Regions from separate parts of the Homo sapiens genome. Here region 2 is linked to region 1. Evidence: fine-mapped expression QTL. A gene starts in region 1. The other region holds a variant in brackets. All regions are shown on one strand. Distances are between the middles of the regions.

Region 1 (5,477 bases):
AGCCACCGCGCCCAATGTTGTTCTCTTTATTTTTATTATTTATTATTATTTTTTGGCCGGGTGAGGTGGCTCACGGCTGCAATCCTAGTACTTTGGGAGGCCAAGGTAGGCAGATCACTTGAGGTCAGGAGTTTGAGACTAGCCTGGCCAACATGGTGAAACCCTGTCTGTACTAAAAATACAAAACTAAGCCAGGTATGGTGGTGTACACCTGTGATCCCAGCTACTCAGGAGGCTGAAGCAGGAGAATTGCTTGAACCAGGGAGGAGGAGGTTGCAGTGAGCTGAGATCACGCCACTGCACTCCCAGCCTGGGCAACACAGTGAGACTCCGTCTCAAAAAAAAAAATTAAAAATTAGCCAGGCATGGTGCCTCATGCCTGTAGTCCTAGCTACTGAGGAGACTGAGGCTGCAATGAACTATGATCGTGCAACTGTACTCCGTCCTGGGTGACAGAGCTAGACCCTGTCTCAAATAAACAAAAGGAGAATGGAAAGCTTGCTGAGGGGCCTGAAGGACAGCTCTGGGCAGGCTGGACCAAAAGAAGAGAAGGTGAGTTATGGATTTCCCAAACAGTCCTAAAAGCAGAAAGCTGGGACTTACAGAAAGAGGTGGGGAAGCCCGGGGCCTCAGATGGATTGCTGGGGGAAATGGTCACTTGAGAGGGGATGGAAATGGGCCCCGTGCACTGCTACAGGCAAAGGGTAGACGAGGTATCTGGAAATGGCTATGACATCAGCATATGATGGGCGTGGCTTTTCTGTCCTAGAAGTAATTGTGCCAATGCCCTTTGTATGGCACTAAGGAGGGGCCACAGGAAAGGAAAGGAAAGGAAGAGAAAGGAAGGAAGGAAAGAAAGAAGGAAAGGAAGGAAAAGAGAGAAAGAGAAAGAAAGAAGGGAAGGAAGGAAGGAAAGAAAGAAGGAAAGGAAGGAAAAGAGAGAAAGAGAAAGAAAGAAGGGAAGGAAGGAAGGAAAGAAACAAGGAAAAGGATGAAAGAGAGGAAAGAAAGAAAAGATGCATGGCAAGGAGTTCTCATCCAGGTAATCTTAGATTCATTTTTGCCCAGTGACCACACACTCCTCTTGGGCCAAGCAGTGCTCTGGAAAAGTCTCCCACGTGTTCTTTTGGACCTTGAGATTAAAAGAATATCTTTTATATCTCAGGGATAGGGAAGTCCTCTCTAAGTAAGACACAAAACCCCGAAGCAATAAGGAAAAAATTGACAGGTTGAAGATTAAAAACTTCTCATATCCAAAAGATTCCCTAAACTAACTTAGACAAGTGGCAGACAGGGAGAAAACATTTGCAACATACTTAACAAGATCTTTTCTTCAGAGCATGTAAAGAGCTCCTAAAAGTCAAGAAAAAGACAAACACATGGTCAAAGGATATGACTAGAAAATTCACAGGATTCAAATGGCCAAGAAACATACGAAAACAGAAATTTGCACTAAAACAGCAGTGAGTTACACTTTCTTCCTTTGGCTTCCAGAATGCCACAGTAGCCTGGTTTTTCTCCTGCTTCAGGGGCTCCTCCACTTCAAGAGTCTCTATTTGGTTCTTTCTTTCTTTCTTTCTTTTTTTTTGAGATGGAGTCTCACTCTTTTGCCCAGGCTGGAGTGCAGTGGCATGATCTTGGCTCCCTGCAACCTCTGCCTCCCAGGCTCAAGCGATTCTCCTGCCTCAGCCTCCCGAATAGCTGGGACTACAGGTGAGTGCCACCACACTTGGCTAATTTTTTGTATTTTTAGTAGAGACGGAGTTTCACTATATTGGCCAGGCTGGTCTTGAACTCCTGATCTCAAGTGGTCCCGCCTGCTTCGGCCTCCTAAAGTGCTGGGATTACAGACGTGAGCCACTGCACCTGGCCTCTTTCTTGAGCCCTTAACCTTGGAGGACCCAGGGCACTGTCCTTGGTCCTCTTTTCTTCTTTGTCTACACTCACCCACAGCTTCATCCAGCCCCAGGTCCTCAGCCTGTCCCCCTGGGTCACAGCCTTCCCCTCTGCCAATGCTGGAGTTCCCCTTAGTGCTGCCCTAAGAGATTTTTAAAAACACAGCTATACATTCATTGTTTTAAGAGCTTGGCATTTTAATGTTTTGCTGCAGGAGAGGGAGGCTTCAGGGATTCACACTTATGTATATACATGATGTTATTTCTGTAAGTGCAAACACATACATTTATGGCTATATGCATGGAAAAGCCCAGAAAGTGACACACCAAGATGTTATGAGTGTTTATCTATGGGTTGTGGGATTACTAGAACTTTAAAAATGTCATTAGCACCATCAAATAGATTTACAACTGTAATGCTGATTTTAAAAATAACTTAAGTGTGTAACAATAGGTTACATACGCTAGTGTTCATTCATAGCTGGAATGCTACACAATCATTAAAAAGCGTGTTGGCAATGATACTTACCGATATGGCAAAATTCTCACTACTTGATGCCAGGTAAAACAGCAGGAGATGCCAGATATACAGTCTATACAGTCTGATGCCAGTTTTATATAATAAATTTTTAAAAAGAAAACGACATGCATCTAGAGAAAAGACTGGAAGGAAATGTATCAAAATGTTACCTGTGCATCTCTCCAGGTGACGTGAAAAGCGTTTTTCAACTTCTTGAATTTTTCAGGTTCCGCAAAAAAAAAAGTGCGTTATTTTTACCTTAATTAAAAAAAAAAAAAACAAACAAAAACCCTGGTTCTTATTCTTTTTGAGCAGCAAGTCGCTGTCCGCCGGGCGCAGTAGCGATGCACCGCGTCCCCGCCCGCGTCGCTGCCGGGTCGCCGGAGGCCGCAGCACGGGCAGGTCCAGCAGGCCGCAGCGCCCCCCCGCGGTATGTCCCGGCGGCGGGAAGGGGGTGGGCGCGGAGGGCGGGGAGGAGGCGCCGGGCGTCCCCGCGCTTCCCGCGAGATCCCGCTCCGCCCGCTCCGCCCCGCTCGCCGCGCTCCCAGCTCCCCGCGCCGCGGCACTTCCTGCCTTCCGCGCCCGCGCCGCCCGCCCTCGTCTGCGCCCGTCGCCTGCCGCCCGCCGCCCGGCGACGCGCCCGCCGGCGTCCCCGGAGGTGCCCCCGGCCCGGCCGGGTCGTCGCCCCGCCGCCGCGCCCGCGAGCCGCTTTGTCTCGGGCGGGGCGCGCGGGAGAGGCCGCCAGGTGCCCCCCGCCACGGGCCCGGGCCCCCCGCCCCGGGGCGGCGGCGGCGGCGCCGGGCCCCGGGGCGGGGGGCGCGCCGGGATGGGCCCCAAGAGGCGACAGCTGACGTTCCGGGAGAAGTCACGGATCATCCAGGAGGTGGAGGAGAATCCGGACCTGCGCAAGGGCGAGATCGCGCGGCGCTTCAACATCCCGCCGTCCACGCTGAGCACGATCCTGAAGAACAAGCGCGCCATCCTGGCGTCGGAGCGCAAGTACGGGGTGGCCTCCACCTGCCGCAAGACCAACAAGCTGTCTCCCTACGACAAGCTCGAGGGCTTGCTCATCGCCTGGTTCCAGCAGATCCGCGCCGCCGGCCTGCCGGTCAAGGGCATCATCCTCAAGGAGAAGGCGCTGCGCATAGCCGAGGAGCTGGGCATGGACGACTTCACCGCCTCCAACGGCTGGCTGGACCGCTTCCGCCGGCGCCACGGCGTGGTGTCCTGCAGCGGCGTGGCCCGCGCCCGCGCGCGAAACGCTGCCCCCCGCACCCCGGCGGCGCCTGCCAGTCCGGCCGCGGTGCCCTCGGAGGGCAGTGGCGGGAGCACTACTGGTTGGCGCGCTCGGGAGGAGCAGCCGCCGTCGGTGGCCGAGGGCTACGCCTCGCAGGACGTGTTCAGCGCCACCGAGACCAGTCTATGGTACGACTTCCTGCCCGACCAGGCCGCGGGGCTGTGCGGAGGCGACGGACGGCCGCGTCAAGCCACCCAGCGCCTGAGCGTCCTGCTATGCGCCAATGCCGACGGCAGCGAGAAGCTGCCCCCGCTGGTGGCCGGCAAGTCGGCCAAGCCCCGCGCAGGCCAAGCCGGCCTGCCCTGCGACTACACCGCCAACTCCAAGGGTGGTGTCACCACCCAGGCCCTGGCCAAGTACTTGAAGGCCTTGGACACCCGAATGGCTGCAGAGTCTCGCCGGGTCCTGCTGTTGGCCGGCCGCTTGGCTGCCCAGTCCTTGGACACCTCGGGCCTGCGGCATGTGCAGCTGGCCTTCTTCCCTCCCGGCACCGTGCATCCGCTGGAGAGGGGAGTGGTCCAGCAGGTGAAGGGCCACTACCGCCAGGCCATGCTGCTCAAGGCCATGGCCGCGCTAGAGGGCCAGGATCCCTCAGGCCTGCAGCTGGGTCTCACGGAGGCCCTGCACTTTGTGGCTGCCGCCTGGCAGGCAGTGGAGCCTTCGGACATAGCCGCCTGCTTTCGTGAGGCTGGCTTTGGGGGTGGCCCTAATGCCACCATCACCACTTCCCTCAAGAGTGAGGGAGAGGAAGAGGAGGAGGAGGAGGAAGAAGAGGAGGAGGAAGAGGGTGAAGGAGAGGAAGAGGAGGAGGAAGGGGAGGAGGAGGAGGAGGAAGGGGGGGAAGGAGAGGAATTGGGGGAGGAAGAGGAGGTGGAGGAGGAGGGTGATGTTGATAGTGATGAAGAAGAGGAGGAAGATGAGGAGAGCTCCTCGGAGGGCTTGGAGGCTGAGGACTGGGCCCAGGGAGTAGTGGAGGCCGGTGGCAGCTTCGGGGCTTATGGTGCCCAGGAGGAAGCCCAGTGCCCTACTCTGCATTTCCTGGAAGGTGGGGAGGACTCTGATTCAGACAGTGAGGAAGAGGACGATGAGGAAGAGGATGATGAAGATGAAGACGACGATGATGATGAGGAGGATGGTGATGAGGTGCCTGTACCCAGCTTTGGGGAGGCCATGGCTTACTTTGCCATGGTCAAGAGGTACCTGACCTCCTTCCCCATTGATGACCGCGTGCAGAGCCACATCCTCCACTTGGAACACGATCTGGTTCATGTGACCAGGAAGAACCACGCCAGGCAGGCGGGAGTTCGAGGTCTTGGACATCAAAGCTGAGTCACTGGACCTAGCTGTGCCCCCAACCTAGATTGGCAGCACCACCCCAGGGCAGAGGACTCTCTGGGCACCCGCTGTGCATGGAGCCAGAGTGCAGAGCCCCAGATCCTTTAGTAATGCTTCCCCTGGTCCTGCAACAGGCCCGGTCACCTCGGCCGGGCCCGGGGCTGAGGTCAGCCTCACTGCCTGCTTATTGCCTCTTTCTCAGAATCCTCTTTCCTCCCCATTTGGCCCTGGGCTCAGGGGACCAGGTGGGGCGGGTGGGGAGCTGTCCGGTGCTACCACACCGTGCCCTCAGTGGACTAACCACAGCAGCAGCCAGGGATGGGCCCTGGAGGTTCCCGGCCGGAGAGTGCCTCTCCCCTCTGCCATCCACGTCAGGTCTTTGGTGGGGGGACCCCAAAGCCATTCTGGGAAGGGCTCCAGAAGAAGGTCC
Region 2 (5,255 bases), 25 kb after region 1:
TCTATGTTGTCACTATCCAGAGGGTTACAGGCCCTCAGTGTTTGCCCTTTACTGAGTACTGGCACTGCATGAGATGTGGGTCCTACCCTCAGTGGGCATGGGGCATGTCCCTCTCAAAGCAGGCATGGACAGGTAACCAGCTGACTGCAGCAAGGCCTGAGGAGTCCCAGTGGGAGGCCACTTGGTGGGGGCCAGGGAGAGGGAAGTGCCCCCCAGGGCAGGGGTGAGGCAAAAGAGTGGGGTGGGGAGTTCTGCTTCCTCAGAGCCCCCAGTGCAGTCACTGGCCCTGACCATATCATTTAGGGCTGAAGTACGGGCCTTGGCCAGGCCCTCCAAGCAAATGTGATGTGGTCATTCATTCAACAAACATAAACCAAACACAGCTCCTCCCTGTCTGGTGCTGCGCTGAGTGCCGGGGACACAGGGTTTGACAAAAACACAGTCACTACCCTTGTAAGGTGAGGAAGAGGGATATCAAATGATCCCAGACATGAGAAAGGGGATTCCAAAAAGAGCTGTAGTCCTGTCCTGGGATTTGCAGGGTGTGCATCCTTAAAAAAGAAATGTTGGGGCTGAGACCCTGTCGAAGGTGTGGCTGGGAGGGACGGGATTGTTCCTGGCTGAAGGGATGACCTGGGCAAAGGCAGGGCGGGGGGACGGTCAGGCAGTAGGTTGGGAGGAAGACAGGGAGGGTGCCCTGCATGGACCAGTTCAGAGTGTTTTGTGAAAAGGGCCTGCAGCCTTTGCTCACCAGCCACTGGTGCAGTTTAACCAGAGCCTTCAGGAAGCATCCTGGGAGATGGGGGGACCTTGAGGACACTGGGCTGTCACTGCCTCCTGGCTGCAGAGGTGTGGCTGGAGCAGCCTCTGCAGGATAGGAGGGCCTCACACTCTTGTGCTTGGCCATTTGTCATATACTCTGAGTTCACAGCTTTGGGGGCAGCTGTAGTCGGGGGGCGGTTACGGCAGGCTGCTCTCCAAGACCAAGTTCCCTGGGGACAAGCTGAGCTTTCCAGGGCTGAGGCAACTGACCCCACAGTGGCCCTGGCCAGAGGTGAATGGGTGTAGCTCCACTTCCTGCACCCTGGGCTGGGGCCTGGAAGCTCACCTCCAAGAGGGGGTTGCTGGCCTGGTCCATTGGCCAAAGGGGGCTCCTGGTGGTACCCAAACTGTGAACACCCTGCCCATGAGGCAGGGCTTGGGCCTGGGTGGACTTTGCCCACATTGAGAAGTGGGGAGCGAGGTGAGGCCACATCTGCTCCCAGAGCAGCTTGGCACCAGAGGGACCTTGAGATCATGCCCTCCACAGGCCCAGCCCTAAACTATGAGGCCACCCTGTAGTTCCTCTTCTGTCCCTGGACTGATGAGCCAGTGTCACTCATCTCTAAGTTGTTCAGTATGTTTCCCTGACAAAATAAGGACATAATTCTTTACATAATACAATTCCATGATCAACTCATTTCTTAGTGTTACCTCATATCCAGGCCATTTACATTTTCCAGATCCCCCAAATGTCTTTTTTTTTTTTTTTTTGAGACGGAGTTTTGCTCCTTTTGCCCAGGCTAGAGTGCAGTGGCGCAATCTCGGCTCACCGCAACCTCCGCCTCCTGGGTTCAAGCGATTCTCCTGCCTCAGCCTCCCGAGTAGCTGGATTACAGGCATGCGCCACCACGCCTGGCTAATTTTGTATTTTTTAGTAGAGACAGGGTTTCTCCATGTTGGCCAGGCTGGTCTTGAACTCCCGACCTCAGGTGATCCGCCCGCCTCAGCCTCCCACAGTGCTGTGATTACAGGCGTGAGCCACCTCACCCGGCCTTTTTTTTTTTTTTTTTTTTGAGACAGAGTCTCGCTCTGTCACCCAGGCTGGAGTGCAGTGGCGGGATCTTGGCTCACTGCAACCTCCGCCTCCCAGGTTCAAGCGATTCTCCTGCCTCAGCCTCCTGAGTAGCTGGGATTACAGGTGCACACCACCATGCCTAGCTGATTTTTGTATTTTTAGTAGAGATGGGGTTTCGCCATGTTGGCCAGGCTGGTCCCAAACTCCTGACCTCAGGTGATCTACCCGCCTTGGCTTCCCAAAGTGCTGGGATTACAGGTGTGAGCCGCAGCGCCCGGCACCCCCCAAAATGTCTTCTTTGATAGGTAGTTCGAAACACCCTCTCCTTTATTTTTCTTCTTGCAGCTGATGTGGTGAAAAAAACAGGTCAGTTGTCCTGAAGATTATCCTTTTTTGGTCTGTTAAGTGTGTGTTGATCTAGAACAAGGGTTGGCAAACTTTTGCTCTGAAGGGCCAAATAATAAATGGTTTAGACTTTGCAGGCCATATGGTCTCTATCATAACTACTTGGAAGTAACTTTGTTTTAGTGCAAAAACAGACAACATGTAAGTGAATGAAGTGTAGTGTTCTATTAGTAAAACTTTATTTGCAAAAATTTATTTGCCAGGCCTGGCGGCTCACGTCTGTAATCCCAGCACTTTGGGAGGCTGAGGTGGGTGGATCGCTTAAGCTCCGGAGTTTGAGACCAGCCTGGGCAACTCTGTCTCTACAAAAATTAGCCGGGCATGGTGGTGCGTGGCTGTGGTCTCAGCTACTTGGCAGGCTGGGGTGGGAGGATTGCTTGAGCCTGGGAGATTACGGTGGCAGTGAGCTGGACTCCAGCCTGGGCTGGACAGAGTGAGACCCTGTCTCAAAAACAAAAACAAAAACACAACAGGCAGCAACCTTACCATCAGCTGTGTAATCAGCTGTAGTTTGCTGCTTTCCTATCTAGAATAATCTCCCTCGTTTTATTTTTCTTCTTTCTTTTTTTTTTTTCTTGAGACAGAGTCTCGCTGTGTCACCCAGGCTGAAGTGCCGTGGCGCGATCTTGGCTCACTGCAACCTCCGCCTTCCGGATTCAAGTGATTCTCCTGCCTCAACCTCCCAACTAGCTGGGACTACAGCTGCCCGCCACCACACCCGGCTAATCTTTGTACTTTTGGTAGAGACTGGGTTTCACTATGTTGGCCAGGCTGGTCTTGAACTCCTTACCTTGTGATCCGTGAAAGTGCTGGGATTACAGGCGTGAGCCACCGTTCCCAGCCTGCTTTCTTTTTCTTCTTGACATTTGAAAACA[A/G]AAACAAAAACAAAAAACAGGTCAGTCATCCTGTAGAATATCCTGCCTTCTGGGCTCGTCTCATTGCTTTCTCATGGAGTCATTAAATTTGTTCCCCTCTCCTCTGTGTTTTTAGCAAATGAGAAGTTGAAGTTAGAGGCTGGTTTAGATTCCAGGTTAAACCTTTTTGGCAGGAATCCCTTGTCAGTGATGCTGTGACTTTGGGCTGCCTTACTTCAGGAGGCATCAGTGTGACAGGCTGTCCTGCAGAGAGTAGAGAGATAGACCAGTGTGTGACTGGGAGAAGTCACATACCTCCATTGCAAACTTGTGCCATTCCTCTTAAACACCAGGTCCTCGGCCAGGCATGGTGGCTCACACCTGTAATCCCAACACTTTGGGAGGCCGAAGTGAGCGGATTGCTTGAGGTCAGGAGTTCGAGACCAGCCTGGCCAACATGGTGAAACCCTGTCTCTACTAAAAATACAAAAATTAGCTAGGCGTGGTGGCGGGCGCCTGTAGTCCCAGCTACTCGGGATGCTGAGGTGGGAGAGTCGCTCGAACCCAGGAGGCAGATGTTGCAGTTAGCCGAGATCGTGCCATTGCATCCCAGCCTGGGTGACAAGAGTGAAACTCCGTCTCAGAAAAAAAAAAAAAACAAAAACCATACCAGGTCCTCTGTCAGTGACGCTTGGGCGCCTGTGAGTATCTGCTTCCTGTCAACCTTCCCCTCTGGTTTAGCATCCACTGGTTCTTGTTGCCTCCAGCATTTGTTCCTTTAGGGGTTGCAGAATGACTTAGCATTTGGTCATTTCTTTGTTATTTATTAGCAAGAATTCTTTCCGAAAGAAGAGCTTTCCATCAACCACCAGGGCAATTTGGTTACAAGAAAGGCCAAGAGACAGGCTGAATTCTTCCTCTTTAATCCTCAGCTTTCAGAGTAAAGAGGGCACTGCTACCGTCAGTGGTGACAAATGAGGGCTTTTGAGGGCTTGGGTTTGTTTGTTTTGCTTTCTCTCTTCTTTTCTAATAATCTCTGTGAATGCACTGCTTTTATGTGTTCCATCTGTTTCCATCAGTTGCACTCATTATTCTTTTTGATGCTCAGATGGTCCCAGCTCGGCCCATTGGAGGCTTCCTGGGGCGCCTCTCACTGCCCCTGTGCTGAGGCTGCCGTTGGGGAGCTGAGGCGGAGGCAGGCCTGAGACTCAGGGCAGGGTCTGAATGGGGTTCAGGTGGGGGCACACCCCCTCCACAGGCATCTGTTTTGCATATGGCCCTGACCGATCACCAGGAGGGAAAGCTCTAAGGGCACGCTTACTTTATGTGGTCCCCTGTTCTTGCCCACCATCGAGCACCCTGTTGCCTCTGACCGCACCCAGCTGCATTGCTTGTGTGACCTGAATAAGGTAGCTCCAGGCCCAGCCTTTGGGGTCAGCAGCACCAGAACTGGTCCCTGGAAAATACCAATAAAGTCCTCCTTTCCAGGCTGCCCCTCCTGCCAGTCTCTGGGGGTGCTGGGGATAGGAGTCCTATGCTGTTGCTTTGGCACCTAGAAGCTGCAGCTCAGCACATGCTGGCAGGACCCTGAGTCACTGGGGTATCAGGAAGGGGTGAGGGCTCTTGGTGAATGTGGGCAGTCGGTAGAGGGTGGGCAGAAGCCCCCGTGCTAGAGAGTACAGGCACCACTTGGGCTGCTGAGAGCGGTAGGGGTTTGAGTCCTTCCTAAAGGGAGCTCCTCTGGTGTCCCTGAGCCATGGGTCCATGAGTGGCCCTGACCCCTGCCCTCCCCACTCCCTATCCTTCAGGCTCCCGCTGGTGTCCCTGGAGCATGGGAGGCTGCTGAGCGTGAGTGGCGGTGTCTGGCAGGAGCTGCGTGGCAGGGAGGGCGTCCATGGCTGCAGCCAACAAGGGTAAGTGCCTTCCTGGCGTGGTAGGACTTGCACAAGCTCTTCCGGTGGGCCCTGGTAGGAGGGCCATTGCTGCAGGTAGGGCCCGCACCACCTGTGTGTGTGTGTGTGCATGTGTGAGTGCGTGTGTGCTGGTGTGCGAATGTGATTGGGACTATGTCAGTGTTTGTGCCAGGTTCTGGGGCTCACGCAAGCCCTAGCAGGACCCCTGCAGAGCCCTGCTGACTCCTTAGGCTGGTCTGTGGAGGT

Evidence for each region. PIP is the estimated chance that this variant, and not a neighbour inherited with it, causes the effect.
Region 2: its variant is the best candidate, but not a certain one, in a credible set for the expression of CENPB in whole blood (INTERVAL, PIP 0.60).

Annotation. Positions count from the first base shown.
Region 1 is chr20:3,784,248-3,789,724 of GRCh38, reverse strand. CENPB (centromere protein B) reads left to right here and starts at 2,985. Exons shown (of 1, transcript NM_001810.6): 1 at 2,985-5,477. The coding sequence starts at 3,242. The coding sequence ends at 5,041. It also overlaps a transcript of CDC25B not described here. RefSeq lists a silencer at 2,684-3,033 and enhancers at 2,869-3,578, 3,474-3,613, 3,579-4,289.
Region 2 is chr20:3,759,836-3,765,090 of GRCh38, reverse strand. ADISSP (adipose secreted signaling protein) reads left to right here. Exons shown (of 6, transcript NM_001258429.2): 2 at 4,905-5,009. The coding sequence starts at 4,991. Among named protein-coding and RNA genes, the nearest start is that of ADISSP, 5.3 kb to the left of the region's middle. The variant A/G (reference allele first, on the strand shown) is at 3,118.